4 linked regions of the Homo sapiens genome follow. The protein of the gene in region 1 interacts with the protein of each later gene in a pairwise test. Each region holds a gene or a part of one and is shown on either strand. Other genes may lie near its edges.

Region 1 (7,674 bases):
AAAGCTCATCTAGTCCATTTCCTTTCTTTTAATGAAAATACAGTTTTTGAGAATGTAAGTGGATGTTTTAGATGACACACTTACAGGCAGAATCTGAATAACTCTGCCTTCCTGAGAACTAGCCCAGTGCTCTGTTTGCTTGCTTACCTCTCCAGGTCATGGAATCAGACCTCTTAGTATTCCATGCAGCTTAAAACTGAAAACCTTTAATAAAAGTGGTTGGGCAATTTTCAGCCTTTTTTTTTTTTTTTTTTTTTTTTGAGATGGAGTCTGACTCTGTTGCTCAGGCTGGAGTGCACTGGCATAATCTCATCTGACTTCAACCTCCACCTCCCAGGCTCAAGTGATCCTCTTGCCTCAGCCTCCTGAGTAGCTGGGACTACAGGCATGTGCCACCACATCCGGCTAATTTTTTTGTATTTTTAGTAGAGACAGGGTTTCACCTTTTTGGCCAAGCTGGTCTCAAAGTCCTGACCTCAAGTGATCCACCTGCCTCAGCCTCCCAAAGTGCTGGGATTACAGGCATGAGCCACTATGCCCGGCCTTCAGCTTTCTTTTGGTTCTAATCATATATGTGGTAAAGTGATTGATTTAGACAGTTATGTTAATGTGAACAGTGCTGTTAATGTTATTGAATTTGATTAAAATAAAGCTCCATAATTTATTTTATTTTATTTAGCATTAGGGCCTTTGGGACAAAATATGAATAACGAAAGCAAGATAATTTGCAAATAAGAATTAGTCCAAGAGCTATAGTATGTTTTGGGTTTGTTTTTGGGTTTGATTTTGATCTGTTTTTAAATAAGTATGTTATAGTATCTAATATTAACTTAAAATCTTGGTTCAGTTTGCCCTACATAATCTATTCTAAAAATATATGTATTGGTCTGTTCTCGCAATGCTAGAAAGAACTACCTGAGACTGGGTAATTTATAAAGAAAAGAGGTTTAATTGACTCACAGTTCTGCAAGTTGTATAGGAAGCATGGCTAAGGAGGCCTCAGGAAACTTAACAATCATGGTGGAAGATGAAGGGGAAGCAAACCTGTCTTATATGGTGGGATCAGGAGAAAGCAAGTGAAGGAAGAAGTGCTACACACTTTTAAACAACCAGGTCTTGTGAGAACTACTATAAGAGAACAGCAAGGAGAAAGTCCACCCCCGTGATCTAATCACCTCCTACCAGGCCCCTCCTCCAACACTGAGAATGACAATTTGACTTGAGATTTGGGTGGGGACACAAACCATATCATACAAATTCAAGAGTTTGTAACTTGGTACAATGTGCCTTTATTATTTTCTGCATCATGTGCATACTTCACTGGTTCACAGCATAAAGACTGAAAACTGCCATATTTATTAGGAAGTTGTATTTTGTTTTTCAAGCTCTGTTGAGGAATAGATGGAATTTGTTCCATGGTGAGCTGTTTTTAAGTTTTCGCAGTATCATTAATGACCCCAGTCTCATTCTGGGAAACTTGAATTCTCCTTGCAAATTCTAAGAAGTTCACACTTTACCCAAACTTAATGTAATAACGAGAGACAACATCTGTTTATGCCTAGTTATTTGAGGTTTTGTTGCCTGTTTGTGGGAGAAATTCTCTCCTTCTGATTAGTATGCAGAAACTAAAATCTTGGTGAATGATGGTGATAAATATCTGAAACATAATCAGATGATTCAGTCAATTTTTGGTGAAGATTATTCTGCTACACTTTATACCATATCATGTTACAAGAAAATGACAATGACACACTTACATCTTTCATAATACAGACATTATAATTGGTAACAAACATGCAACATCTATTATTCCATTCTTCGTATTGGGCGTCATTTTGAAGTATAATTGATGCAGAAGACTTAACACATTATTTGGGTTTTCAGGTATTAAACCAACCCACCTGTAATTTATAGAAAGAAAGGCAGCACAAAAAGTGTCTGCCAGCTTTGCTATTTTCCCCTCTTCAGAGAGCCTCTGTGACTTTTCATGCTGCAAATAGCTGTCTACACATGATCGTATCTTCCATAGGAGAAACAGGCTTCTAAATTCAGATGTCTGTTTATGCTGAGGCCCAACTAAAAGCTACATTACCTTGTTCTTGACATCCTTTTTAAAAAGTACTGTGTGATCTTTGTCGAACTTTGTTTAAACAAAGGTTAAACCTTTTGAGAAAATTGGTAATAATTACCGGTGTTTTTATACCAGATTTGGGAGTCACCATCAGCAATTATTGAATACGTACATTGTGCCAAGTACCTGTACTAGATTCTGAACTTAAAGACTCAGTCCCTGCCATGAAATAATTTATAATCTAAGTAGGTAGAAGGAACAAGTATATAGAAATAACAAAGACAGTTTATAAGTACTTTGAATGAAATTTCAGGTAGATATCACAGTAAGTGGAGCAGTTTCAAAGGCTTCTTGGGACTGGGGCTTAAGTGGGCCTTGAAGGATGACTAGGATGTAAATAAATTGGGAGGATATTTCAGAAACAGCAAACAGAGGGCAGAAGAATAGAGGCAGACTCTGGGATTGTAGCTGTGTCACAGAGGACAGCAAGTGTGAAAAGGCAAACATTTGTGACTAGAGCAGAGTCAGAGAGAATAATGAAAAGTGAGTCACTGTGGGGAGGACCTTCCATGTTAATTAAAGAACCTGGACAATGTTCTATTAGGTGCCGCCTGAAGACGTTGGAGCAGGATGTTGACAAGAGCAGAGGGCATTTGAGGTTATTGGAAGTGAAATAGAATGGATTAGAAAGGGAGTGTCAGCCTTAGCCAGAAAATTTAAAACTATTCAGTAATAACCCATTACATACTGTGTATTGAGACCATTTTCCCCTTGGTCTTAAGGATGTAGAGGTAGTTACATGCAGTAGTGTTATCTCTACTTCTTGACAAGGACTGCCACTTTGAGGCAGCAATAATCTTTAAAGACCAGTCCCCAGGGAGAATTGGCTAGGGGCCAGGCCATCAGAAGATTCCATGTCAGAAAATTGCCCTAACAGGCTATTCATAATGTGTTCCAATTTAGTACCCTTTACACTGCAGAGTCATGGAATAGTACTTAAGCTGTTCATTTTAGACAAAAATACACTTCCCAGACACATTAATTGCATGTTTCAAAGTTGTATTTAAAACTTGCCTAAAAGGTAGGAGCTTTTAAGTAAACAAAAAATTTTCTCTTGGCAAAAAGTAACCAGACTCTTCCTTGATCTGCTTATTCAAATCTATCAGGTGTTTTATAAGAAACACTAATATTTTTCCAGAAGGACCAGCTGGCATCATATCCGACCATGTTCTGCTAAGGTGACAATTTTTCTTTCTCACACTTTATGCATTCCAGAACATTAATTCTCAAGGGAGGTACCTGGTTCATTCCTCTACCCTTTAGGAAGAACAGCTCTAAAATGAAAGCTCAAAACTCTCCAGAGGGAGAAAAGTCACAGCCACTTTTAATTTGGTATGAGTCAGGCTCCACAGGCTCTGGGGTTTGCTTTGCTGCTTACTAGTTATGTGACACTGAGCAAGTTAATTAATCATCTTGTACCTCTGTTTCTTCATTTGTACAATAATAGGTCCTACTTAGTAGGACTCTGGGGAGTGTTAAATGATATATAAAACCCCAACATTAACTGGCATATAGTAAGTGTTATATGTGTTAATTGTTACGACATTCTGTGGGTTTTTTTGTGTGTTCCTGTAGATACTACTCAGCTAACCTATAAACACAATTGATAGTTTCGTGTGTGTGTGTGTGTGTGTGTGTGTGTGTGTACTTTGCATTTTAAAATGTCTTTTGGTTACTGAGGGTTTCCATAAAAATCATAAATATAAGATGCTCACCATCAATATGGTGTACTTCAGCAAAGAAGAAGCTAGGAGCTAGAAACCACCTTTGATCTCTTTAGTTTACATAGTGTCTTACCTTTTATATTGCTGGTTTCATCAACTGGTTCCCATTAGCAACCAAAGTGGCAGCAGGATTTGTGTGTTTATGTAGTGATAATTTTTGTAGTGAACAAAAATATTATACTTTAAATATTTTAGTCTTGAATTGACTTTTCCGCTGAGGAAACTCAGTGGAAAAAGTCAATGAACTGAGGCACTCAGTTCATTTTTTTTTTTTTTAAGGTAGAGTCTTGCTTTGTCACCCAGGCTGGAGTGCAGTGTGCAATCTCAGCTCACTGAAACCTCTGCCTCATGGGTTCAAGTAATTCTCATGCCTCAGCCTCCCGAGTAGCTGGGATTACAGGTGTTTGCCACCACACCTGGCTATTTTTTTCTATTTTTAGTAGAGACAGGGTTTCACCACGTTGGCCAGGCTGGTCTCAAACTCCTTACCTCAGGTGATCTGCCCACCTCAGCCTCCCAAAGTGCTGGGATTACAGACGTGAGCCACCATGCCTGTCTAGCACTCAGTATTTTTTATTGCTGTTGGGGACAGCAGGACACTTAACAAGTACTAATGAAAAAAAAATTTGGTAGAGTGGAAAAGGCACTGGCTTTGGGCCCCTGGATTGCTACCAGGCCTGAAGTCAAAAGACACGGCTTTGAATAACAGCTTAAATGCTTATGGACATTATGACCTTGAACACGTTATTTAGCCTCACATTTTTCATCAACACAATGGGGATACTAGTAAGTATATGCCTTATAGGATAGCATTGTGTGATCTAAGTGACCATACATAAGGCACCAAGAAGAGTGCTTGGGATGTAATAGAGCCTCAGTACATGTTAGATCCTCTCACCAAACCAGGCCCCTTCCTCTTGCTGCTATCTTCTTAAGCATTAACCAGCAATGCAACCTCAAGCAAGTCACTTTTCTTTTTTAGACCGTGAAGTTTTCTGACCCCTTCTCTAAATCAATTCTCTCATTTATTCTTGTTCAGCCTCGACTTCCATTCCCCTGATATCCCCACTAACCGTTTTCACAGAGAGCATTGAAAAATTCTCTCAGCTTCCTCCTCTCTTACCCTACCTGCGTCTCCATCAGTCGTTTCTTCTGGTTTTGGGTACCCTCCTCCCACTGAACACCCATCAAACCCTATGCTCTGGATTCCATCATTTTTTGCCATTGAATCTGTCAGCTTTTTGCTCTCTCACCTGTAATTTCAGCCTCTCCTCGCCCCTGCATCCAGGCTTCTCATACTCTTCCATTTAAAAAAGATTCCTTCCTAGATTCTTCATCCTTTCTCCAGCTATTGCTCTCTTTTCTTTCTCCTCAGTTTAGGAGAAAAAAGTGTACATATCATCCCACATCTTCCCCCCAACCCAGCTCTCTCAACCCACTGGTTTCCATTCTTGTCACGCTACTGAAACAACAATAGTAAAGGACATAATTCAATGGACATATTTCAGTTTCTCAGCCCATATCTTACTTGACTCTTCTATCATATTTGACATTATGAATCTTCCATTGACACTCTTCTTCTCATTCTCCTTCCAGTCTGGTCATTCTTTCTTAGTTACAGTGACTGAATTTATTTCCTGTGTCCCTTAAATATTGGTGTGCTCTAGGGTTCTGTGCTCTCTTTCCTTCTTACTCTCTGCCCTTCTCTTAGAGTAATCTCATGTACTTTTATGGTTTTTTATTCTCATCTGTATGCTGATGTTCTTTTCTCTCCTCTGTCTGCCACACTTCTTGCCTGTGTTCCAGAGCTATCTATTCAACTGTGTTGGACGTCTTCACTTTGGTATTCCACAGACTCCATGTGTCCATAAATGAGCCGTGTTAACCATCTCTCTCCTCCCCTCTTCTCTGCTCTCTACATCTCTCTCCGCACAAGCCTGCACTTTCTCCTAAATTCCCTGACGTGTTTGATGGAACAACTGTCCATCCCATTCACCAAACATGAAAGCTGGGTCAATCCCTGATGCCACTTCCTCCTTTCTTCACATCCAGCCAGTGACATCTGAGCAGAGAACTGAATGACCAGGGGTCAGCTCTATGAAGATCTAGGGGAAGAGCTACAGCAGACATGAGACTGAGTTTTCACTTTCATAGTGATGTGCTCTGAGCAAACTGGCCCAGAATTGGCTGCTTCCTACAAGCAGTAATGTTGAGAGGATCATTTACACAGGAAAGCACTTAAACAGATCAAATAAGGAAAGACATTGGCATAATTTTTTTGAGACGGAGTCTCACTCTGTCACCCAGGCTAGAGTGCAGTGGCGCGATCTCGGCTCACTGCAACCTCCATCTCTCGGGTTCAAGCAATTCTCCTGTCTCTGCCTCCAGAGTAGCTGTGATTACAGGCAAGTGCCACCACACCCAGCTAATTTTTGTATTTTTAGTAGCGACAAGGTTTCGCCATGTTGATCAGACTGGTCTTGAACTCCTGACCTCAGGTGATCTGCCCGGCTCGGCCTCCTAAAGTGTTGGGATTACAGATGTGAGCCACCATACCTGGCCCATAGATTGTTTTTACTGACAACATTTTCAAACAAAATGCTGTCAGGTTGTCACTAAAAAATGGATCTTGGATTCTTTGCAGCTCCTCAAATTCCTTTTTGTTCTTTCTGTTAGTTCTTTGCTGGGGTGTTGGTGGGGGAAATGGGGGGCAGGTGGGATGGTGGGCACAGAATTTTCCTGACTAAGCCGAAGCTCTCCTGCCTCTTTTACTTGTTCTGAAGACTTTTGAATTTGAGATTAACAACACAACCATCACCTCTTAAAAGTCTGTATAACTTTATCTTGCATATATTTTGTTATTAAATATGTCTTTTAGTAGAGAATGAGTAGGAAGACTTTGGTCTTTATAATATTCAGTTTTATGTGGGTTATATCCTGATTTTTAAAGTTAGAAACTCATAATTTTATGTAATTCTATGTAACTAAAAAGATTGATTTGTTTTTATAATCTATATTTGTATAAGTATGGGACTAGATTACACAAAACAACATTGATCACTGGAACTAAGAGCTTTCTTTTGACCACAGGCAAACAGCTCTTTCCAGTAGAAAAGAGCTGGGCTCCCTCACTGTTTCCTGGCTCTTTCCAGTAGAAAAGAGCTGGGCTCCCTCACTGTTTCCTGGCTCTTTCCAGTAGAAAAGAGCTGGGCTCCCTCACTGTTTCCTGGCACACGGTATGATATTGAGTTCCATGATTATGCATGTACCTTGGGTTACAACCCCCCTGGCGGCAGAACCTCTATTGTGTCCTTCTTTGTATTGCCCACAGAGCCTGTTGGTGACCTGCACACAGGAGCCCTCCAGTCAGTACTGATTGAATTACTCAAGGCTGCCTCTCTGCAAAGTTGAGGTAAGCAGCTGAGTTCAATGATGCTGGCTGCATTTTCAGCTATTGGGGCTGCAGTAGCTAGGCAGGGGCTGCAGGCCCTTCTGGCTTTTTAGCCCTCCTGCTCACCCACCATTTACACAGTCTTCCTTTCAGAGCCCCCCTTTCTCCTCCTGCACTTCCTTGAATATTGACTGCCTCTCTGATTTCCCTCACTTTGTCTCTCCCAAATATTAGGGCTGTTTTTATGGTCTGCTAATTCTGTGAGAATGAGGTACCTCTTCTGGGAGGCACTGCCACACTCAATGGCACTGCAAACAGGTTTTTATTGGCTCATCTCCAAGCTCTCCAAGTCATTCTGCCCTCATACTGATTATGAGACACCATCTGTTTATCTTGATTGCATAATAAATTGAGGACTCATAAATGTA
Region 2 (7,861 bases), on another chromosome or scaffold:
TTTGGTGATGTTTTTGTGACCGGAGATATGCATAGGAATTTAACTCTTGTTTGTATCAAGTAGCCTATGGTGAAATTGTTTTCCTTATATATGCCACTTCGCTTAAAGTCACAATTTCCAAGAACATATCCCTGACATTAAGGACTTACTGTATCTATCATCCTGCTGACTAGTAACTTCCATACCAATAATTACTTAGGCACATAATCCCAGAGTCATTTGATTTAGGTTTATGAATTGTTTCACATAGACATTTGAGTTATGTTATGAACAGCCGCGAATTTCAACATCTTATTCCAATCTTATGAATCACTTTATGGAAGAGGACAATGTATACTTTTTTTTCTGTTTAATATGGGACTATTCAAACTTTAAATAGTAGAGATATTTAAATATAAGGACATCCATATTTTTGTGATATAATTGAATTTTCCCATTTGGTTATTGTATGTGTTTCAAACGGGAAATGAGTGGATACCATTTCTTTTTCTTCACCTTTTTTTCAGCTTTGATGCCACAGGAAGCCAGCTTGCTAGCTCCCTGTTACCTGATAGTTCCCTGACTAAAAAGACTCTTCAGTGAGGATCAGCATTTTACCCTAGACAGGAGTCGTGAATTTTCTTTTTAAAGATACACATATCTCTTAAAAGGGTCCAGAATATTTCCTGCAAAACTGTCTCTGTCATATGAGCACCTATTAGAGCCACTATAAGAAAAGCTAAGGAAACAAATCCATCTTTCCTGCAACAGAAAAAACACACACCCTAAAATGGGCCAAGAACTTGAACATCAGCAAGATTACAGACCAGGGAAAAAAGCAAATAACATTTTAACTGAAAATTTGATTTGAAAAATAAAAGCTTATCCATTGGTTCTCTCACTTCTTTCCCCACTTCTTTCTCACTGCTGGAACTTTGTGAAACATACAGATGATGGAGGAGCATTTGTGTCGACATTCTGAATTTCAATTTTTAATAATTAGGCAGATGGTTGGTTTGTGGTAAAGTCCATTATTGTACAGATTGCAATTTGTATCTAGTCACAAAATATAAGTTACTTTCCTAGGACGATTTCAGGATCTTTTCAGATAGGAAATATTACTGTAATTGAAAAACGACTTAACTTTTAGCCAAGAGCCCATAACATCCAGGTACCTCCGTGCCCCTATGAACTGTTTCTTTTCCTCTCGAGTCTTTATTGGTCATAGCCCTAGATTTCCCATCAAATTCAACCCGGCCTGAGCGGCAGGCAATGCCCCTGCTGGGTGCGGATTGCAGGCCCACCACTGGAGGGCGTCTGGACGCTTCTAAACAGCTCTGAAGCGCCTGGAAATCCCGTCTGAGGACTGGAAAGCGCAGGAGGGTGAACGTGAGATTTGATTTTATTGGGCTAATAAGTAAAAAGGAGTGCAGGCAGGTGTGGGAGCAAAAGTAAACTGCCTTTTTTCTCCTGGGGATCTGCCCTTCCCACTAAGGCAGAAAACTCCCTAGGGAACATGAGAAAAAATACCGCTGCTCCCGAGCCCGCGGACCCCTTAAGGGCGGGTCTCGGGGGCCTGTGGCCCCGCAGAGCAGGCGTCGGGCTCACTTCCTGGGCGCTGGACGACAGTGGGGACGCGTCCCGAGGCGCTGGGACAGTCTCGCTGCCAGGAGATCGCTCTTCAGTGGCGGCTGAAGACCAGGCTTGCAACCTGCCCTTGAAGTCCAGGACCGAGGGGCCTTTTCCAACAATAAAGGAACTGCTTTTCTTCCCACAGCCCCCGCCCCCGGCCCTCATTTCTTTCCGCACCGGGTTCGATAAAGGCGTTTATTCTTTGGGGAGTGGGCAGCAAATCACCCTCAAGGTTGAAATGGAAGAGGTGTGAGGTTATTTCTGAAGGGCTCGTCTGCCGCATTCATTTCCTCTCTGTGGAAGGTTCGCGCTGAATTGTAATCACTTTAAACTGTGATTTGCCTGATTTTTAAAAACGTGTTTTCAGAGCATCACTTTAAAGAAAACTTGCTTCCTGCCCAAGAATCTTTAAATCCCAAGTGGGAAGAGGAGGGCTGAAAGGCACAGGAGGGGTGCTCAGACTTCCAGATAACCCAGCGCCAGGCAGCGTGCGGCGTGGAGAGCGGGTGGAATGGACAGGAACGCGCACTCCCTGAGGCTCCGTTCCAGCCCATCCGTCACCTGCGGGGCACCAGAGACAGATGCCGGCTCTCCAGCCAAAGGGTGGGCACAGGTTCCTTTAAAATCGAAAGACCCTACTCCCAGGTAAAAAGATGTCAAATCATTCCTTAGCCCAGACGGAATTCAGCACCCAAAGGGTTACACGTGGCTGCCGGGCTCCGGCGCAGGAGAGGGCGCCTCGGCACTCCCAGTAATTCAATTAGTCAGGTTTCTAGAAGGTGGGGCGGGGGAGGGGGTAGGAGGCGTGGGGAAGGGAGATTAGGAAAACGCCTCTTTCTCGTGGAGCAAACCAATCCGGTTGGAGTAAAGAGAGAGGAAAAACCCCCAATCTGTAAGCAAACAGTAGGCCGTTCCCTGACTGGTTGCTCCAGCTATCCCCCCACCGCGCTCCCACCCTTCCCAAGTAAACTGCTTGGAAGGAGGAAAAAAAAAAAAAAAAAAAAAAAGACAGTCCACATGACCCGGGCCGCAGCGGCAGCAGCGCTGGCTGGGCGCGGGCTGGCGGCACCTCCCCCTGCTTCGTCCGGAGCTCACACCCGCGCTCGCGCCGCCCGCCCGTCCCGCGTCCCGCGCAACACGCCCGGGCGGAGCCCCATCCCCCCGCCCACGTCCACGTTCACGCGTGCGGCCTCGCGCTCTGCTGAGGCTGCTGCCACTGGGTCGCCGCCGCTGTCGGCTTTCCACGCAAGTCATTAACGAGGGGGCGTGCCCGAGGAGATTTTTTTTCCCATAAAGCATTTTTTCTCTCGCTCTCTTTTTTTCCCCCTCTTTTGCAAAACTGACTTTTACAAAACCCTTTCCACTTCTTGCCAGTCGTTTCAATTCCTCCTGGGCTGCTCGTGCTGCTGCTGCTGCACTCAAGTTTATTTATTTTCCCGCCTGGGTAGGGGTTTTAGGATTCGGTTTGTGGTTTTCACCTCTGTTGCTGCTGTGCCTAAGGAGGGAAAGAGGAGCAGCTGCGGGAGGATCGGGAAGGTTTTCTGATGTAGTCATCGGGGAGGTGCCACTCGCTCGTGCGCTTTTTTTTTTTCCTCTTTTCCCATTTCAAACTGATTGATGCATCTCTACAAGTTGCTAGGCTTGGACCCGCTGGAGTCGCAGGGACACTTCTGAGAGCTCACCCCGGGCTCTTGGCACCGCGTGTGGGGGCTCAGTCTCCCTCTCGGAAGGCGATCGGAGACTGACATCGGCCCATCCAGGAGTTGGAGGGATCCATTTGAAAGTGATTGTTTCCCCTCCCGCTCTCCAGCCGAACAGTTGGGTTGGCGTCGTCTTGCAGGTTTAGGAATCCCAGCTCTGCCAGGCCGGCTGGTCTTAACCTCTGCTCTTCATTCACTGTGGTGCACCCACACCCAGCCAAGGAAAGCACGCGCGAGAAATCCCCGAGGCTCGGCCAGCCCCCGGGGTGCCCTCTTCCGCTACCGCCGCGTTCCGACTCTGCTGGGGGACCTGCCGGAAGACGCGAAGAGCCAAACTTTTCTTTGAGGTTTTCGAGGCAAGACCGCTTCGAAAGCCGGCGCAGCTGCCGCTTAACCAGTTCCAGGACACCGACAAGGCTGGGTTGCGGCTCCGGATCCCCACCCTTCTCGGCGCACCGCCCGGTACCGCAGCACTTACGACTCCTCTGAGATTTCTGGGGGTCGCCCCGCTAAGGCACAGAGGAGGCTGAGGAAAGGGGTTCTCAGACTCCCGGGACCACAAGCGCGAAGCCCTCTATCAGCACGTCGCCCTTCTCCTGCAGTTTCCCACCGGCCGCCAAAGTAACTTGGAGCGAAGCGTGGCGCAGTGCGAGGGCCCCGGGCGGTGGCGGAGCCGTGCGTAGCCTGCTGCGCCGACGCTGAGCCGGGCCCGGCGGGCCGGTGTATGTCTCCCCGCGGCTGCGGCGCGCAACTCCCGGTGACTGTGCAGCGCGCGCCGCCGCCTGCCCCGACCCGCGCTGCAGCCGCCCGGCCCGGCGCGCACCTCCCTCTCCCGGGGTGACCGGCCTGCCGCCGCCGCCCGAGACACAGCTTGGCACCTCTTCCCCCGCCCTCGCCGCCGCCACCACACACACGCACGCTTCTCTCCATCTTGTGATTCCTTTTTCCTCCTGAACCCTCCAGTGGGGGTGCGAGTTTGTCTTTATCACCCCCCATCCCACCGCCTTCTTTTCTTCTCGCTCTCCTACCCCTCCCCAGCTTGGTGGGCGCCTCTTTCCTTTCTCGCCCACTTTCATTTTTATTTATTCATATTTATTTGGCGCCCGCTCTCTCTCTGTCCCTTTGCCTGCCTCCCTCCCTCCGGATCCCCGCTCTCTCCCCGGAGTGGCGCGTCGGGGGCTCCGCCGCTGGCCAGGCGTGATGTTGCACGTGGAGATGTTGACGCTGGTGTTTCTGGTGCTCTGGATGTGTGTGTTCAGCCAGGACCCGGGCTCCAAGGCCGTCGCCGACCGCTACGCTGTCTACTGGAACAGCAGCAACCCCAGGTAAGCCGATAACAGGCGGAGAGCCAGGGCTACCCGGGCCTCGGGGCCCTGCGGAAGGAGCGGCGGCGGGGATCGGCGCGCACCAACCGCTGGCGGCGCGCACCCTCGGAGCCTGCGTCGCCCGGGCGCTGATGGCTTGAGGCGTCGGCGGGAAGCGCTCGCGTCGCGCCCCTCTTTGTTAAGCCGCCGCGGAAAGGCCAGGTACCCCTGGGAGTCCCCGGGGCTGCCTAGACCAACTGCTTCTGCGGGGCGCCGGGAGACTCGGAAAAGGGCGGGAGCCGGGGAGTAGGGACTTCTCTGCTTCCCAGCCCCGGCATCTGGCTGGCATCCGGTTCCCGGCGCGGGGAGCCCCCAGTGTGCGCAGCCGGGAGCTCCTTCCTGGAGCGTGGGTCCGCAGGGACTGCGGAGAGAACCCGCCAAACATCCCCCAAAGTTTTTTTTTTTTTTTTTTTTTTTTTAATTTTAATTTTCCCTTCTCTTTTCCCGGTGCGCGCAGAGAGAGCGCACGGGCTGGGGGAAGTGAGGGGGGCTGGGAAGCGGAAGCTTTAGGTTTTTATTTTCCTCTTCAACTGCGAGGAAATCATTCGGCCCCTGAGTCAGTCTGGGCCCGGCGCGCCTGGCAGTGGAGAGGATTCTCCCATCTTCTCCATCCCTCCACCCACCCCAGTGGGTTCAAGGTGCCAGAAAGTTTGATCTAATGCCGGGTTACGTCATGTGTGCAGAACAAGCTGCCAGAGTTGGCCGAGCCAGGAGGTGGGAGCCCTTCGCCCGCGGCCTGGCGATGTGCTGCCGGAGGAACGCGCGCGATTACCTGGAACCGATTTGTAGGCGTCCCGAAGCCCGCCGGGTATGCGGGAGACTAGAGGTGGGCGCCGGGGGCGGTCCTAGTGCGCGTGCTGGACACCGGCCAGTCGCAGACGTCCCGTGTTTTCGGACCCTGGAAGTGGAGTGGGGAGGTTATCCAGAGTGCCCGGCGGGGTCCTCCGGGTCTGGAGCAGTTCCGAACCTTTATTGCTTCCCGGCCTGTGCACAGAAGTCGGCCCCGCTAGGCCCATACCGCACTGCTTTCTCTGGGACAGAGGCTAGCTTCCAGCTGTGTGCCGGTCTCGGTGCCCTCCTAGGTGCTATTTATTAATAGTACCGATTGCATCTAAAGTCACAGGTTTTTCACTGGGCTGGAGTGGAAGTTGGGAAGAGAGAGGCGGGAGGCCGAGGGGTTAGCCTAAGAGTTGGTGCGCGCCCCGGGCTCCAGGAGAGAGGGTATCGGTGGGCGCCTCCAGTTTTTTCTATCTCCTGCGGGCCCTCTCCGCCTGCCTCCAGCCTCCCCTCAGCATGCAGGCAAGAGAGGGATTCCCTGCTTGAATAATGTCAGCGCAGATGAAGATGGGAAGATTTCCCCACAAGCAGTCCGCCGGTTACAGAACCAGGAGGGAGTTCCCCCTATCCCGCTAGTCCAAGATAGTCTTACTCAGGTAGCCGCCCAAGTCCTAAATGAACCGCTGAACAGGAGTGGAGATATTCCTGAAAGTTTGGTTCAAAAAACAAGAGTCTCCTGGAGGTGGGTGGTGGAATGGGAAGCGATTTCTTCTTTGACATGCCACTTACCACTATTAGGAAAAGAGAAAAAGAAGCCATCCTGCCAGAGGAGAGATGCCTTTTATTAAAGCTGACAAGACAAATAGAGCAAGCTTTCCAGTTGTGATGGTGTTAAAAGCCAGTCTCATTATGTTGGTTAGTTTTTTTTCCCCGTTTGTGCTTTATTAGGCAGCATATACGAAGCAGAAATTTGTATCTCTGAACTTTAGCACCTTATTAAATAAAGCAACACTGAAATAGTTTCTTTGAATTTGGGATATCTTGCTCTCGGTTGTCTTTTCTTTCCCACACCAAGCTCCACATTGTGATCTTTTTCTCATGGCATTCATTTATTTGGATACTTGGGTGTTCCAGTCTTCCTGGGTTAAAACGGAAAGAACCAGCAACACCCCTACTTTAACCCCCCTTCTTAACCTGTCAAGCTAGTCTGAGTTAGTTTGAGGACATTTTATCTTAGGTTATCTCTGTTTTGTGCTTTTGATACTGTTGTTTGGTTTGAGATTAGCACATTGATTTTTGTCACAGGTCATGTTTTTTAATAGATCTGCCCTGCCTGCAGAAAACTCTTCTGCTCAGGATGCCATGGAGGCTTTGAACCTGCCCAGACAAAGTTAATCTGCAGAATTTTAAAATACCAAGAGTATTTCTAAATCGGTATTCTAACTTCAGGTTTGTAGAATTACCTTTCTATTTGATCATTATCAGTTTGATAATGGCCAAAAGAAAGAATGATGTACCCCTCTTAACCCCAAGAGATACAGCCCTAACACTTATTATTCTTAGGAATTTATGGACACATTTATCTTGGTATGTTATCACAGTTAAAAACTTACTTTAAAAACAATATTTTAAAAGTAGGCAGTTTTATCTCTGAAGTGTTGAATAAGATGTTGCTCTTTTGATGCATTAAGAAAAGTCAACTTGGATATAAGAGGCCACATGCCAAATAAGTATTTTAAAAATAAAAACTAACAGTTTTCCACAAACAATAGTAAGAAAATATTTCAGAAAATTTCCACGGGTTTAGTAAATTTTATAAATTCACTGTTGTGCAATTCCTTTTCCTGTATGTTATTTCATAAAGTAAGCTAGCCATGCTTTGTGTCTTTATATAGAACCTATCTGTTAAAATTTTGCTAAACTAGTAAGACTTCAATCTTTTGAAAAAAGAATAGAGGACTTTAATTGCAACTTAAATAATTTTTTTTATTTTTCCCTCAGAATATAATATGTTCAGTGGGCACGTTAAACTGATGATAATGTACACTGTGTCTAAACGAAGTAAATCTACTTTAGCTTATACTAACAGATTCAATTTGAAATTATGTTTAGGTAAAATCAGAATTAAATGTATCTTGATCACAGGGATTAAGTACAGTATCTTACTGTGTAACTTGTGTCACTTGTGTATCTGGTAGGAGTTTATCTTCTACATGGAGTTTCATTACTGCCTCTCCATTGATAAATGAGCATCTATAGATGTAGTTTCACGGGAAAAAATATTAAATTTATTTGCTGTCAGAATAGTTTTACTGTTACAATCTATGTACCCAGGTATTCACTTCTGAGAAGTGGATACTGAGTTTTCAAATGCTGATAACTTTTAGTTGGTAGTATTTATTGGATAGG
Region 3 (7,674 bases), on another chromosome or scaffold:
GCCCAAGCTAAATTTTTTAAAAGGCGCCCCCAGTCATTGATGATAACAGATAACAGACTTCAACCTCCTTCCCGTGAAGTTGGAGTGGGATATCACTGGGGTGGTCAAACTGCGTGGAAAACGAGCAGTTCCACGCCTAAGTGAGTAGCTGACTAGGAAACGTCCTACATGGGGAAATGCCACTTTCGAACTCTTTCCTTTACTTGTAAACGGGAGCCAAAAAATAGTAGATAGCATGTCCCTTGAAGATATTGTCTGAACACTCACCAATGCCCAACCCCCACATACCTGCTATTATAAGGAACCAGTGGTGTTGTTAAAGAGCCTGGGGGTTGCAGAATATTCTCTCCAGAAGATGAGCGAGACCTGACAGCCAGCAGAGAAGTCCAGTGCAGTTCAGCCCACGTGAATTGAACCACCTGCTAGACATGGGATAGGCGTTGGGGACATCGGACTCCTTGTAAGCAAACTTTGCAGTATTTTTGGTTGTCTGAATACAAGCTTACCTCCTGAATTTTGGGAAGCTTTAGAAGGGGAAAAATGAAGTTTATGGAGATTCCATGGGTGAAATAAGTGGAAACTGTATGGAAAGACTCTCTAAAGGTGTCTCTTGTCCATTCTTCTACTCTAAGGAAAATCCAGGTAAAAAATGATAGTAATTAATCCTGTCCTTAATACAGCTGGGTGAAGGTGGCCTGATGACTTACTTCTTCCAGTAACCTAGTCGCATGTCTAACAATATTTACAACCAAAATGTTTGCTTTATTTTACCCACATTCTCCTAATTGAAAACTAAAGGCACCTGGCAGAGGGAAAGTCCTCTTTCTTTCTCTCTCTCTCCTTTCTTCTTTTTTTTTTTTTTTTTTTTTTCTGAGACAGAGTCTCACTCTGTCACTCAGGCTCTGGAGTGCAGTGGCACAACCTTGGCTCACTGCAACCTCTGCCTCCCGGGTTCAAGGGATTCTCCTGCCTCAGCCTCCAGAGCAGCTAGGATTACAGGCATGTGCCACCACACCTGGATGAATTTTTTGTATTTTTAATAGAGACAGGGTTTCGCCATGTTGGCCAGGCTGGTCTCGAACTCCTGACCTCAACTGATCCACCCACCTCGGCCTCCCATAGTGCTGGGATTACAGGCTCTTTTCCTCTTTCTCCTTTCCCTTTCTCTGCACCTTCTCTCCCCACCTCCTTCCCCTTAACTTGTAACTTGTAGCCCTGTAATGACCAGATCAAGAAAGACTAAGGGTTCCAGGAAGAAATAAGGGTCCCCAGTGAGGGGCAGACATTTTGTCTCTCAACTCTTTCTCTTCAACTGGAGTTAAGATCTGCCACTCTGTCTCTTTCCCAGAAGAGAGATGAGAACACGTGGGTTTGAACTCCTTTAGGTAGTTTTATTTCTATAGCAAACAGGGTATTTCTCTAAATTGAATTTGTTTCCAAGTGGAGCCTCTTTTTTTTTCCACCATTGGTTCTGTTGTCTTATCAGCACTTCCAAAAGTTTTATCTTCCCTCTGATCTTTTGGCCCCAGAGAACATCTCAGTGGGGAGCTACAGTCAACTTTTGGGCCCAGTTCCCATTTCTCAAACCCCAATCCCATAATCCACGAATGTCAGGAGGGCACAAGGTCCTTGCCAGCCCAGCTGATTTAATCACTCCTGCTGCCCCTTACTGATACAGCGACCTTTTGTAACTTTTATGCAAGAGTTTGAGGACGCGTGTTCTGAACTCAAGGGGCCATAAACAGCAAGATTTGTCAGGTTCCTTGATCAGCAGCCAGCCTCAGGGCAAATCAGACACGAGTCCTGATGGTTTACAACTATGTAAAAATTGAGGATCCCACAGCCAACTTGGATTTTCTATAAATGCTCTTCTGAGTCACGGAGCTTGGTGATGTTACCATTAACAAGGCCCATGAACTGCAGCCTCTCCCTAGAGTAAGGCGGTAACCTGTCTTAACAGCGTTCATCAGCATAATTCAGGGCAATCAACACAACTAGAGGGCAAGCTGATGGAGGGCTGGCTTCTGATAAGAATGTTGTACTTAATTACCCTGTGCACCCCTAGGTTGTCCAGCCAGCAAAGTGAGTGGGCTATGGAAAATGCTGGTGAATGTCCAGGCCTCCCCTTCCAGATAGATGGCTGTCTTCAGTCTTTGTAGATGGATGTTTCCATGGTGTCAAGCGGATAGAATGGAGTCCAAGAGCAACGAGAACCAGACCCTGGTTAGGGCAGTGGCTCTCAACCAGGAATCATTTTACCTCCCCAAGGGACATTTGGCAATGTCTAGAGATGGTTTTTTGCTTGTCACAGTGGAGGAAGTGCTACCGGCATTTAGTGGGTAGAGACCAGGGATGCTGCTCTTTTACAGTGCACAGGACAGCCCCCCTGCAAGAAGAAACTATGTGGCCCTAAATGTCAGTAGTACGAAGGTTGACAAACACTGAGTTAGGAGCTGATGCTTCTTCATCCAAAATGAGAGTTCCATGCTCAGGATCGCTGCCTTCCTCTTCAGTCTTCCCTTCCCTCTCCCAGGGAAGGGAGCTCCTTATTAACTCTTACAGGGGCCTTTGGGAGAAGGATTCAGTCTCTAGATGCAAAACATGGTAGGACCTCAGATCCAAAATTGAAGGGGGAAATGGTCAACCAGTTCTTCAAGTTGCCTAATAATTTATTTGATTAAAATTTACTACTGAATCAAGTTGTTTCAGCAAATAGTCTAAAACAGGGGGATTTAACTTTGTTTATTCATTTTTAAAGCAATAAAGCTTTTTTTTTTTCAAATCTCACATGTAATGTTCGTATATGAATCAAATGAGAACAAAGCTACTCCATTTGGGATGAGGCTGGAGAGGGGGTCCAGATTCCAGGCCTTGCTGATCCCCCTGGTATATTCTTGAGACACACCCCAGATGCCCAGGGCTGTAAGAGCACAGTCCAGAAGCCACCTTTTGGATTGTTTATAAATCTCACTTCTTACTGATCCACTTCTCTTCAGTCAGGCACACACCAATGCCACATATCTTCATATCTTAGGCACATGTGTCAAACTCAGGATGACTGATCTCAGAGCTCACATGTGAACGAACTGTTTTTTTTGTTTGTTTGCTTGTTTTTTTGAGACAGCATTGTACTCTATAGTCCTGTAGTCCAAGCTGGAGTGCAATGGCATATGATCATAGCTCACTGCAGCCTGAAGCCCCTGGGCTCAAGTGATCCTCTGGCATCAGCCTCCCAAGTAGCTGGGACTACAGGCCTGTGCCACCACACCTGGCTAATTTATATTTTATTTTTTAGAGATGGGGTCTTGCTATATATTGCCCAGGCTGGTCTCAAACTCCTGGGCTCAAGTGATCCTCCCACCTTGGCCTCCCAAAGTCCTGGGATTACAAGTGCAAGCCCCAGCCCCCACCACACATAGTGATTCCTATCTCCAACTACCCCAAGAACTTCTAATATCCAGTCAACTTAACACCAATTACATCCCAGTCCAAGTTAAAGCTTTGAACTCCACTTGTATGGTTTTGTGATCATGGGTCTGGTCACTGCAGTTAAGTTCAGTCCCCACCTTGGCAGTTTCCAGAACCCTCCGAGCTGCCTGGCTACACACCAGTGCAAACCACACGCCAGGCATCGGTCCCCGAAGGAGCAGCCATAATGTCACCCACCAAAGGATGGACTCACCATGTATTCACCATGCTCGCCTGCCAGTTCGGTTTCGGTCCCTGGGCTGTATCCTAGTACCCGCGTTACAGTCTGAGTCTGCTGCCTCAGATGCCAGGGTTGCATCCGGACGCTCAGTGGCAGTGACTATTCCTGTGAATGACGGCCCCTTTCCTTGCCTTGCAGGAGGCCTCGTGTGCTTACGTGCTGATCGTGACTGCTGTGTACTGGGTGTCGGAGGCAGTGCCTCTGGGAGCTGCAGCCCTGGTGCCGGCCTTCCTTTACCCGTTCTTCGGAGTCCTCCGGTCCAATGAGGTTAGACTACTTGTAGCCCCACCCCCTGCCTGGGTCCCTGCAGGGCCCCTGAAAGAGAGCCTCCAATGAAGGGAGATTCACCCAGCACTTGACGATGAGGGGGCCTTGTCACCCACTGGAATGACCCCTTAACACTAAGCTTTGGCACCTGCAGTTCTAGACCCTGAATTCCTCTCCTTCCACCCATGATCCTCATCTCCTTCAAACTGGCTCAAAATTTGCCTCTTTCAGGAAGCCTTACTTGATTAAACACATCCAGTTGCTCCCTCGGTCTGAAGCCTTTTAGGAGCTGTGTGATTGATGCCTAAAACTCAGCTGCTGTTGACCTTTTTCAGACTCTGGATGTCTATTTAGACGATAAGCACACAAAGGCAGGAATCAGACCTCCCATTAGAAAGCTGAGCCTGTACACAGTAGGTGCTCAATGAATGTTTGTTACAGAGAGACTTACCCTATTTCCCTGAACCCTGACAATGTTTTCATCCACGCCTCCAAAAAACAACATTTCTTTTTCTTCTCGCCCGACTTAAGGTTACTTTCTTTCTTTGCGCCCTCCCTAGAGTGAGCCCTCTCCATTCACTGTCTGTGGCCTTCTCAAAAGCTCAAACAGAAATTGTCAGTGGGAAGCCCAGGTTGTGGCAAAATTTCAGAGCAAAGTTTAAGCCTGCCATGAGTAGGGAAAAAGAAAAAACAAAACAAAACAAAACAGCCAGAACCTGGGACCAAATGAATGACGATCTCATTCAGTAACACCTGGTTCCATTCAACTGTCTCATTATTAACACCTGGTCTCTGCTTAGGGTTTTTGTTTTGTTTTTGGTTTTTTTTTTTTTTTTTTTTAATGAAAAAGCCTGAATCACTGAGATGGGGGTAAGGTTATGGGCAGAGGCACAGAAAGAAGAGGAAAGGAAGCTCATATTTGAATGCCTACTAAGCGCCAGGCACTCTATCAGAAGTGCTGCATTTGTTATGTAATACTCCCAAGGGCTGTACAAGGCGCATGCTAGTATTTCCATTTTACAGATAGGCTCAGAGAATTAAGAGACTCAGCCCAAATCACAAAGCTGAAAGTAGCAGAATTAGATTCAAACCCGTAACTATTAGAATTCAAAGTGTATACACTTGATCACTACACCATAAGAAAAAGACTCCATAAAGTGGTATGTGGCTTCATGGCACTATGTACACATGGAGTTATTACTTAGAACTGTGAGTCTCTTCACTTCTGTGATATGAGGAAGAATGGAGCGGGGCCTATGGATGCTTTAATGGACAACAGAACTTTCCAAAAATAGAATTAGGCAATCCTCTAATAGTTGTACTTCACTGCAAATGAACACTTTGTCTTTCTACTGGATAGATTTAACTGACTAGTTTTTTGTTTGCTTTTAGGTTCCTTTTCTTTCTTTCTCTCTCTTTCTCTCTCTCTCTCTCTCTCCCCCCAACTCCCTCCCCTGTCTCTCTCCCCCTGGGCCCGTCTCTCTCTCTCTCCTCTCTCTCTCTCTTTCCTTCCTCTTTCTATCTATCTATCTGTACACACATATATATATGCGTGTGTGTGGCTATACACACACACACACACACACACACATACACACACACACACACACACATGTGGCATTGAGTAGCCATAGCCTCAGGCTCACCAAAAAGAAGAGAATCCCCAAAGCTCTCAGCAGTGCTTTCATTCCTGGAGATGGGTACAACCCCAATATCGTGGGGACCCATGTAAAAGCTAATCTGTGACCAGAATCACCAGGCAGTTGTTCTAATTGCCCCCTCTTCTTTCGTGAAAAAAGAATAGGTAATATGGGGTTTTGTGTCTGCCTAAAGAAAAAAGCAACCTAAATGTGACTTTTCTTAAGAGAGCTATACAAGCTTGTTCTCCAGGCTTCTCTTTAAAATTGTGAAATTAAAACCAGCAAGGGCAGGGCTTGAAAGTGGAGGGTAGAGGAAAAAAAATGATGTTTAGAAAGAACTGAATCCTAAATAACCTTTTAAAGTGAGAAAACTATTAATTAAGAAACCTAATCTTTGTATTTCACTATAGGCAGCCCAAAAGCCAACAGCATGCCTTAGCTTTCAAGCAGACAGTGTCTCTGTTTCTCCAAGGGCACAGTAGAGATGTTGCCAGGCAACAGTTATCCGAGGGACGCCCCTTTGTCCAGAGAGGAAGGCCAAACCCGTAAGGAGAGTCTGCAGAGGCAGTCGCTTGGGAGGGTAACAGGACTCTGTGAGAAATAAAGGAAGACTGTCCAGGGAGGGACTGTGTGTCACTATTGCTAGGGGCTGGAGGAGCCAGAAAGCACGTCTTATCATTTGAGGTGAAAAATCCGAATCCACCTGCCTGATGACGTGGCTTTGGCTGATGATGATATTTAGTAGTTGGGCTACAGGGAGCAGCTTAGTCCAAATATAGTCTGTTTAGCTGACCTTCTTAGCTCAGATTAGAGGGAAATGCCAGTAAGGCAGAGCACATGGGTTATAGCCCTTTGTAAGCCAGTTAACTTTGCAGAGAAAACACCTATTCCACAACCACCTATGCACCACTATGACACCAGAATGTGCCATGGCTCACAGGGGGAAGCTAGGCTGGTGCTCTTTAGGAGCCCCCAAATCCTTGTCATTTCCCAAACCCATCTACTTCTTGACCATCCTCTTACTGCGACTTGGGTTATTCTTCCACTTTGGAAAGTTCTCTCCCGTTCTTTGACCTTTAAAGTCCTACTCAATTACTCTCTTTGGTGAAGCCCTTCCAATGACCAAAGGCTGAAAGTGTTGATCCCTTCTCAATGAGCCTATTTCATGTCTTTATCTTTTAAATGGTGCATCAGATACACCAGATATAAACTTTTCATAGACATGTGCTCTCCCCACCGAGATTCATGCTCTCTGGGATGTACAATGTCTATGTCTATGGCCTGTCTGTAGCCCAGCACCATGTTTGCATCAGCCCTCATTCACAGCTCTTGATTGCAGTGTTTCTTGACAATGTGTCAGTAATGTCATCTTCAGTGAGGGAAGGAAGGCACGTGAATAGGATCAGTGTGACTCTGGGACTGTGGCTGGGTTCCCTCATGTTATTCATTCAACATTTAGAGACAGTATTTTCTCAGTTCTACATCTACCAGGTGCAACATGGGATGATATGGGTACCCTGAGGGTGACAAAAATAAACAAAATGTCATCTCTCCCCTCTTGAATCTCGTATCTGAGCTCTCACTGTCTGAAGCTGGATATGTTCTGCAGTTTCTCCAGAGAAACAGAACGAAGAGGAGACTAGCGCGCACGCGTGCGCGCGCGCGCGTGTGTGTGTGTGTGTGTAGGAATTGGCTCACTTGATTAATTATGGAGGCTAAGACATCCCATGAGCTGCCACTTGCAAGCTGGAGACCCAGGAGAGCTGCTGATGTCACTCTGTGTGAGTCCAAAGGCCTAAGAACCAGGGAAGCCAATGGTGTAGATCCCAGTCCCAGGGCAGGAGATGACAGATGTCCCAGCCCAGGTGGTGAGACTGGAAAAAGGAGGCAAATTCCTGCTTCCTCTGCCTTTTGTTCTAGTCAGGCCCTCGACAGATTGGATGATGTCTGTCCAGATGGCAGAGGGCAATCCACTGATTCAAATGCCAATCTCATCCAGAAACACCCAGAAGCAATGCTTAATCTGGGCACCCCATGGTCCACCCAAGTTGACATGCA
Region 4 (7,835 bases), on another chromosome or scaffold:
GCGTGGTGGCGGGCGCCTGTAGTCCCAGCTACTTCGGAGGCTGAGGCAGGAGAATGGCGGGAACCTGGGAGGCGGAGCTTGCAGTGGGCCGAGATGGCGCCACTGTACTCCAGCCTGGGCGACAGAGCGAGACTCTGTCTCAAAGCTAAAATAAAATAAAATAAAAATTGGAATTTGCCACTGGGTGTGGTGGCTCACGCCTGTAATCCCAGCACTTTGGAAGGCCGAGGCGGGCGGATCACGAGGTCAGGAGTTCAAGACCAGCCTGGCCAACGTAGTGAAACCCCATCTCTACTAAAAATACAAAACTTAGCCGGACACGATGGCGCATGCCTGTAGTTCCAGCTACTCCGGAGGAGAGGCAGAAGAATTGCTTGAACCCAGGAAGCAGAGGTTGCAGTGAGCAGTGATTGCACCACTGCACTCCAGCTTGGGCAACAGAGTGAGACTTTGTCTCAAAAAAAAAAAATTGTAATTTGCCAATTCATCACTCCTCCTGGTTTTTCAGCTTTGATTTCATCCTTAATTTTTTTTTTCTGTTTATGAGACACAGTCTTGCTCTGTCTCCCAGGCTGGAGTGCAGTGGCGTGATCTCAGCTTAATGCAACCTCTGCCTCCCCGGTTCAAGTGATTATCCTGCCTCAGCATCCCGAGTAGCTGGGATTACAGACAGACACCACCACACCCAGCTAATTGTTGTATTTTTAGTAAAGACAGGGTTTCACGATGTTGCCAGGCTGGTCTCCAACTCCTGACCCCAAGTGATCCACCTGTCTCGGTCTCCCAAAGTGCTGGGATTACAGGTGTGAGCCACCATGCCCAGCCTTTACATTTTATTCTTTTTTTTTTTTTTTTTGAGAGGGAGTCTCACTCTGTTGTCCAGGCTGGAGTACAGTGGCACAATCTCGGCTCACTGCAACCTTCGCCTCCCAGTCTGAAGCGATTCTCCCTCCTGCCTTAGCCACCTGAGTAGCTGGGATTGGAGGCTCACGCCCCCATGCCCGGCTAATTTTTGTGTTTTTAGTTTTGTGTTTTTAGACAAGGTTTCACCATGTTGGCCAGGCTGGTCTTGAACTCCTGACCTCAGGTGATCTGCCCACCTTGGCCTCCCAAAGTGCTGGGATTACAGGCGTGAGTCATTGCGCCCGGGCTTAACTTTTTTTTTTTTTTTTTTTTTTTTTTTTTTTTGTGGTGGAGTCTCACTCTGTTGCCCAGGCTGGAGTGCAATGGCACAATCTCGGCTCACTGCAATATCCGTCTCCCAGGTTCAAGTGATTCTTTCGCCTCAGCTTCCTGAGTAGCTGGGATTACAGGCACCTGCCACCACTCCCGGCTAATTTTTTTGAATTTTTAGTAGACACGGGGTTTCACCATGCTGGCCAGGCTGGTCTCGAACTCCCGACCTCAGGTGATCCTCCCGCCTCGGCCTCCCAAAGTGTTGAGATTACAGGCGTGAGCCCCTGCGCCCAGCTGATTAACTTTTATTCTAACCTCTGAGAATGACAGAAGAGGAAAGACTTGTCTTTCAGAGTATGACAAAAACTGAAGAGGTTTTCATCTAGTTAAAAAAAAATGGGGAGAAAAAATTATCTCTAAAAAGTGAGTGGCATGAGCAAAAATGAGAAAGCAAAGACTGTAACTGAAGAACATAGTCTTTATAGACAAAGCTTAAAGCCCATATAGGGAACAGTGGAAAATACTATTGGAAGGCCTTGAGTAGCAGGCTAAGGACTTAGGCATTATTCAGTAGGTAGTGGTTGCTGTCAAAGGAAACACCAGTGTGGTATGGAGGAAAATTTTCTAGTCCTGATTTCAGAAGGCTGGAATTATTGTGCCAGTGTAATACTTGGCAGTCCTTACCCTAAACCTTGGTTTATTTCTAAAACAGGGGTAATCAGGCAGTTGTGAGGGTTAAATAAGATCATATGACAAGGTGTGTTTGCTTTGAAAATGTCAAAATGTTATAAAAATGTAAGTTTTCATTGTTGTGAGGACATAATTGATACTTAAAGACTACCGATATAGCAAAATTACTAAGGTGATGGCTGTAGGATTACAAGAGGGGCAATTTTTTTTCTTTTCTTTGTTTTTTTTGAGACGTAGTTTCACTGTTGCCCAGGCTAGCGTGCTATGGCAGGATCTCAGCTCACCGCAACCTCTGCCTCCCCAGTTCAAGCGATTCTCCTGCCTCAGCCTCCCAAGTAGCTGGGATTACAGGCATGTGCCACCATGCCCGGCTACTTTTGTATTTTTAGTAGAGACGGGGTTTCTCCATGTTGGTCAGGCTGGTCTCGAACTCCCGACCTCAGGTGATCCGCCCACCTCGGCCTCCCAAAGTGCTGGAATTACAGGCGTGAGCAACCGCGCCCGGCCAAAGGGGGGCAGTTATTATTATTATTATTATTATTTGAAATGGAGTCTCGCTCTGTCGCCCAGGCTGGAGGGCAGTGGTGCTGTCTCGGCTCACTGCAACCTCTCCCTCCCGGGTTCAAGCTATTCTCCTGCCTCTGCCTTCCGAGTAGCTGGGATTACAGGCGCACGCCACCATGCCAGGCTAATTTCTGTATTTCTTTTTTTCTTTTTTCTTTTTTTTTTTTTAAGTAGAGACGGGGTTTCACCATGTGGTCAGGGTGGTCTTGAACTCCTGACCTCAGGTAATCCGCCTGCCTCGGCCTCCCAAAGTGCTGGGATTACAGGCGTGAGCCGCGCCCGGCCAGCTGCTGCTGTTTTAGACAATGGTTGATGAAGGATTCGAAGGCCTAAACAATAGAGCTTTTGTTCTGTTTTGTTTTTGAGTGGTCCTGAACAGTTCTTTTGGGCAGGGGAATTTGTCTGTGTGTGAATGTGCAAACATATATATAATCTGAGTGGCTGCCTGGCCTTGTCCTAGGTTTTGTCCCGTATATACGCCGTCTTTTTTTTTTTTTCTTTCTGCATGTATGTATATTTTCTCAAGGCATCTGTCCTGCACTAGACTTTGGCTTGTCTTTCCAGGCCAGCTTCCAGAGGATGCTTTGGCAGTTTTCCCTCTGGGTAACCAAGCAGGCTGCAGCCAGCAGATGGCACTGCAGCAGAAAGGGGCAGAGTCCCTTTAGGCCCTTGACAAGCACGGCGGATTAGTAACCGTATAATTTAACCCTCCAGTTAGCCTTGGAGGACTCGGTGTCGCACTTCCGCCCGAACTCTAATAAAGCGGGCCGAGTTGTGTGCAATTAAGGATTTCAGTATGCAAATCTGAATCTGTACTTTTGTCTCCTCCACCCCACCCCCATCATTAGACTGGCAATGTCTTTTGTCACGTTGTCAAAGTGTCCTCAGAGAAGCGGTGTCTAGATATCGCCGATTTCTGGTTAAAGTGGCTGAAGTGATCCCAGCATTAATTAAATGCAGGAGAATCGAGATTCTCCTGATAGTTTAAGGAAAAGAAAAATTCACACAAGCAAACGGGCAACCCTTTGAATGTTTTCCGACGACGTGGTGCTTTAGGATCTGAAAGATGCGACTTGGTTTTTGTTGTTGTTGTTGTTGTTGTTGTTGTTTTTGAGACGGAGTTTCCGCTCTTGTTGCCCAGGCTGGAGTGCAATGGCGCGATCTCGGCTCACCGCAACCTCCGCCTCCCAGGTTCAAGCGATTCTCCTGCCTCGGCCTCCCGAGTAGCTGGGATTACATTACAGGCATGAGCCACCATGCCCGGCTAATTTTGTATTTGTAGTAGAGACGGGGTTTCTCCATGTTGGTCAGGCTGGTCTCGAACTACGATCTCAGGTGATCCGCCTGCCTCGGCCTCCTAAAGTGCTTAGATTACAGGCATGAGCCACCGCGCCCGGCTAATTTTGTATGTTTAGTAGAGACGGGGTTTCTCCTTGTTGGTCAGGCTGGTCTCGAACTCCGACCTCAGGTGATCCGCCTGGCTCGGCCTCCCAAAGTGCTGGGATTACAGGCGTGAACCACCGCGCCCGGCCGCGACTTGTTTTTGTTACAAGGTTCCTCATTTCATTTGCAACGTTCAGACGCAGTCTGACTAGATTTCCATCCGGAGTAAGGAAGAGCAGCTCAAGGGCAGTCACGGAGGCCGCAGGTGCGGCTTCTTCACCCGCGGTGCTGGAGTTCTCTCAAGTGGAAGCCCAGGACGATGAAAACCTCATAGGTAGGCTGCTGCTTACACACAGCAGCCGCCACGGCGCAAAATAAACTACAAAACTACAAGCCTTTACCTTTTCAAACACACTGACGCGGGCCAGCCCCAGCCCTACGCCCGCAGGGGCACGCAGAAAAGACTTAGTTACCACGGCCAAGTACGAAGCCTTCGAGATAGCGTTCTTCTTACCCTACGTAAACACGCAGTTTCCCGAGCTCGACAATCGGCTAGCCACTCCTGATAGCGTTCGGCGCTCGCCTCTCGGCCCTTGCTCCTGCGTACTACGGCTTCTTCCAGTCACCTCGGCCCGGATCGGGAAGTGTCAAGCGGGCGCTCCCCCATCTCCGCCGCTATTACCACTGAACCCGGACCCCCTACCCAGGTCCAGGGCCAGCCGCCATGACGAACGGTGAGAACTGATGCCCTGAGCGGAGGGTGGGAGTGAAGGACGAAGGGAAAACGTGGCGGGCGGGGCCGGGACTGACGTGGCCGTTCTCCCCGCCCCCTCCCAGCCCGGCCCCCCTTGGCCTCTCGACGCCCCTAACTTCTGTACCCCTATACTCCTCTACGGGTTCCCCCTTCCCATATTCATCTAGGACCCCCAGTGCCTCTTATGCTCACACCTCGAGTTATCTATCCCTATGCTTTGCTTTCCCTTTTCTTTTTCTTAGTTCTTTCTGGCCCTTGGAGAGGTCAGTCCCAGAGGTACTACTGCTATTTAAACCCGGGGAAGAGAGAGGCTCCTCCTCCCAGCTCCCTGCGTTCTCATGCTTTCGGACCGTAGTTTTGTTGAGAGGGCCAATAAATGACATAGAATATCAAGTCCCACACTTTTGGGGTTGCTGGTGAATGTAGACCCCACAAAAGCTTCTTCTTACGGAAAAATACCGGAAAGATTTCTGATTTTAAAGTCCTGGCGGGGTGATCCCACGTGGAGACCCTGACTAGTGTTGCAAAGGGTGGATTTAGACACTGCCTCTTCTAGATGATGAGGCAGTTTATCTGACCTAATTTTCCAGGCCTCTTCAAACACTTTATGAATTCTGAATTCCAGAGGAGGACAGGAAGGAGGGCCTTCATGATTTTTAGTGTCAACCTTACAGGAAAGGAGAAGAGAAAGCCTTTTAGGCATTACGATGATTTGAGGGGCTCCGGAAAGCATTTCTCAAAAGTACTTTGTCCATAGACCTGGCACTGAAGACTCGAATTTAACCTCCTTGTGAATTTTGGCATTGTCTGCAGAAACTTATGAGAGAAAAGGGGTAGCACGTGAAGGTATAGTTCCTCAGAAAACCTTAGTGTATGTATTAATTTGCTGGACCCTTTCTTAGTGACAGCTTAGCTGTGAGACAGTTTTACTGGAGGAAGAGAGGTAGTGTGATCTAGAACTGGCAGACACTGGTTATATATAATATTCATTTGGAGCTTCCTGGGAAGTCAGAGGTCTCAGGATACTAGGCACAGTAAGAAAAGGGAATTTACCCAGAGGAAGACAGAATCTGAACCAGGAAGTAAGACAGCAGTTTGACACGGTAGTTGCTGAATAAATTTTAGTCATTCTTCCCCCATTTTGTGGTCCAATATCTTCTTGTTTTTTGCAATTAGGTGATTCATTGTGCTTCCCTGTACAAGAAATAAGCTTGGTTTATGTATTTAAGAAACAGAGCTAAGAAGTTAAAGCTTTCTATGTTGAAGCCTTAGATACTTTTTCTTTGTTTTAGAAAAATCTGTTATTATTCTGGCAGAAATTCGGTTTGTTAAGAGTATCATCCATAAAGTGTAAGATAATGATAGGAAAATTGTAGTCATGTGGATTCTTACTCTTGCAACTTTCATTAAGCTTAATTTTTTGCCTTAACATATTCTTCACCAACAGTTGCACATCTGACAGTTTTGGCTACATATCTAGCTCTCCTTTATCATATGAGTGATTTATAACAAGAACATGTTAAATTCTCTGTGCTGAGTCTCTAAGGATTCATATGTCTCAATCTATTGCCAACACTAGTCATTCCTGGGATGCTAATTTCTGCCCAGGATTTCTACTTCTTGAAAGGTGAGGGGAAGGACCAGTGACATTTTAGTAAAGGGGATGTAAAAAAAAAAATTTTTTTTTGAGTTGGGGTCTCACTCTGTTGCTCAGGCTACAGTGCAGTGGCATGATCGTAGTTCATTGCAGCCTCGAACTCCTGGGCTCAATTGATCCCCCTTCCTCCTACAAGCAATTTTTGGGAACAGTAAAATAATCGTGTTAGTCCCAGGATCCTGGCTCCCCCTTGTCAAGTGTCAGTACTGCCTGTTGAGGTTATTATTTTGTTATTATGTCACACACTATCTTCCTTAGAGTTCTCAGGCGGGATCACAGGTCCGACGCTAGATCAGTACCTAAGGTTTTCTTTTCTTCTTTATTTAACAGTGTACTCCTTGGATGGGATTCTGGTGTTTGGTTTGCTCTTTGTTTGCACCTGTGCCTACTTCAAGAAAGTACCTCGTCTCAAAACCTGGCTGCTATCAGAGAAGAAGGGTGTTTGGGGTGTGTTTTACAAAGGTGAGGCCATGTCTGGACAGGGAGAAGAGACTGCCATCTCTGGACAGTGTGGAGCTACAAAGTAGGGAGTACAGTGAGCTGGGATTATATTTGGTTTCATTTTTAGAAAAAAATCCCTCCGATTGGGTCTGAGAGTCTGGAAAATTAATCATTCTCCAAAGTTGAGGGAAGAGGTAAAAGTTAAAATTTGCTGGGTGTGATGGCTCATGCCTATAATCTCAGCACTTTGGGGGGCCAAGGCAGGAGGATTGCTTGTGTCCAGGAGTTGTAGATCAGCCCGGGCAACACAGTGAGACCCCATTTCTACAAAATATACAAAAATTAGCCAGGTATGGTGGCACGTGCCTGTAGTCCCAGTTACTCAGGAGACTGAGGTGGGAGGATTGCTTGAGCCTAGGAGGTTGAGGCTGCAGTGAGCCATGGTGGAGCCACTGCACTCCAGCCCAGGTGACAGGGTGAGACCCTGTCTCAAAAAAAAAAAAAATTATTTAAAAACATAATTGTCTATTTTAGCATCCAGATGATTTTTGTATTCTCCATGGAGTAAAAGTATACACATCAAATCATTTTAGGCTGGGGTGGAATTCCTCCCTTCAGTGGGAAAAAAATTTTTCTACGGAAAATTTTTCTTGATTTTCTGTAAATGGTACATTGGAGTCTGTTTTAAGGTTTGAGTTAATTAACTCAGATGCTTTTTTGTACTTTTTATTTGAGGCACATTCATTTGGAATCCTATCTACCTAAATTTTTTTTTGAAAAAGGACAAAATATAAACAAACAGTATATTCACCTAGACCCTAAAGCATAAGGATAGCATTTAGAAACATCTCAGAGGCCGGATGCGGTGGCTCATGCCTGTAATCCCAACACTTTGGGAGGCCGAGGAGGGCAGATCACCCAAGGTCAGGAGTTCGAGACCAGCCTGGCCAACATGGTGAAACCCTGTCTCTACTAAAAATACAAAAATTAGCCAGGGAGCCGGGCACGGTGGCTCACGCCTGTAATTCCAGCACTTTAGGAGGCCAAGGTGGGTGGATCACCTGAGGTCAAGAGTTCAAGACCAGCCTGGCCAAGATGGTGAAACCCCATCTCTACTAAAAATACAAAAATTAGCTGGGCATGGTGGCAGGCGCCTGTAATCTCAGCTAC

Evidence for each region.
Region 2: the proteins of ACKR2 (region 1) and EFNA5 interact in binary tests that used the Homo sapiens proteins (3 or more experiments, as listed by UniProt).
Region 3: the proteins of ACKR2 (region 1) and SLC13A4 interact in binary tests that used the Homo sapiens proteins (3 or more experiments, as listed by UniProt).
Region 4: the proteins of ACKR2 (region 1) and TMEM167B interact in binary tests that used the Homo sapiens proteins (3 or more experiments, as listed by UniProt).

The regions. Positions count from the first base shown.
Region 1 is NC_000003.12:42,812,445-42,820,118, forward strand, and holds part of ACKR2 (atypical chemokine receptor 2), read left to right. Parts: intron 1-7,186; 5' UTR 7,187-7,267; intron 7,268-7,674.
Region 2 is NC_000005.10:107,667,264-107,675,124, reverse strand, and holds the start of EFNA5 (ephrin-A5 isoform 1 precursor), read left to right. Parts: upstream 1-4,187; 5' UTR 4,188-4,511; coding exon 4,512-4,636; intron 4,637-7,861. UniProt on the Homo sapiens protein: Cell surface GPI-bound ligand for Eph receptors, a family of receptor tyrosine kinases which are crucial for migration, repulsion and adhesion during neuronal, vascular and epithelial development.
Region 3 is NC_000007.14:135,717,697-135,725,370, reverse strand, and holds part of SLC13A4 (solute carrier family 13 member 4), read left to right. Parts: intron 1-3,847; coding exon 3,848-3,976; intron 3,977-7,674. UniProt on the Homo sapiens protein: Sodium:sulfate symporter that mediates sulfate reabsorption in the high endothelial venules (HEV).
Region 4 is NC_000001.11:109,086,336-109,094,170, forward strand, and holds the start of TMEM167B (protein kish-B isoform 1 precursor), read left to right. Parts: upstream 1-4,428; 5' UTR 4,429-4,537; coding exon 4,538-4,547; intron 4,548-5,324; exon of another isoform or gene 5,325-5,413; intron 5,414-6,554; coding exon 6,555-6,686; coding exon of another isoform or gene 6,687-6,747; intron 6,748-7,835. UniProt on the Homo sapiens protein: Involved in the early part of the secretory pathway.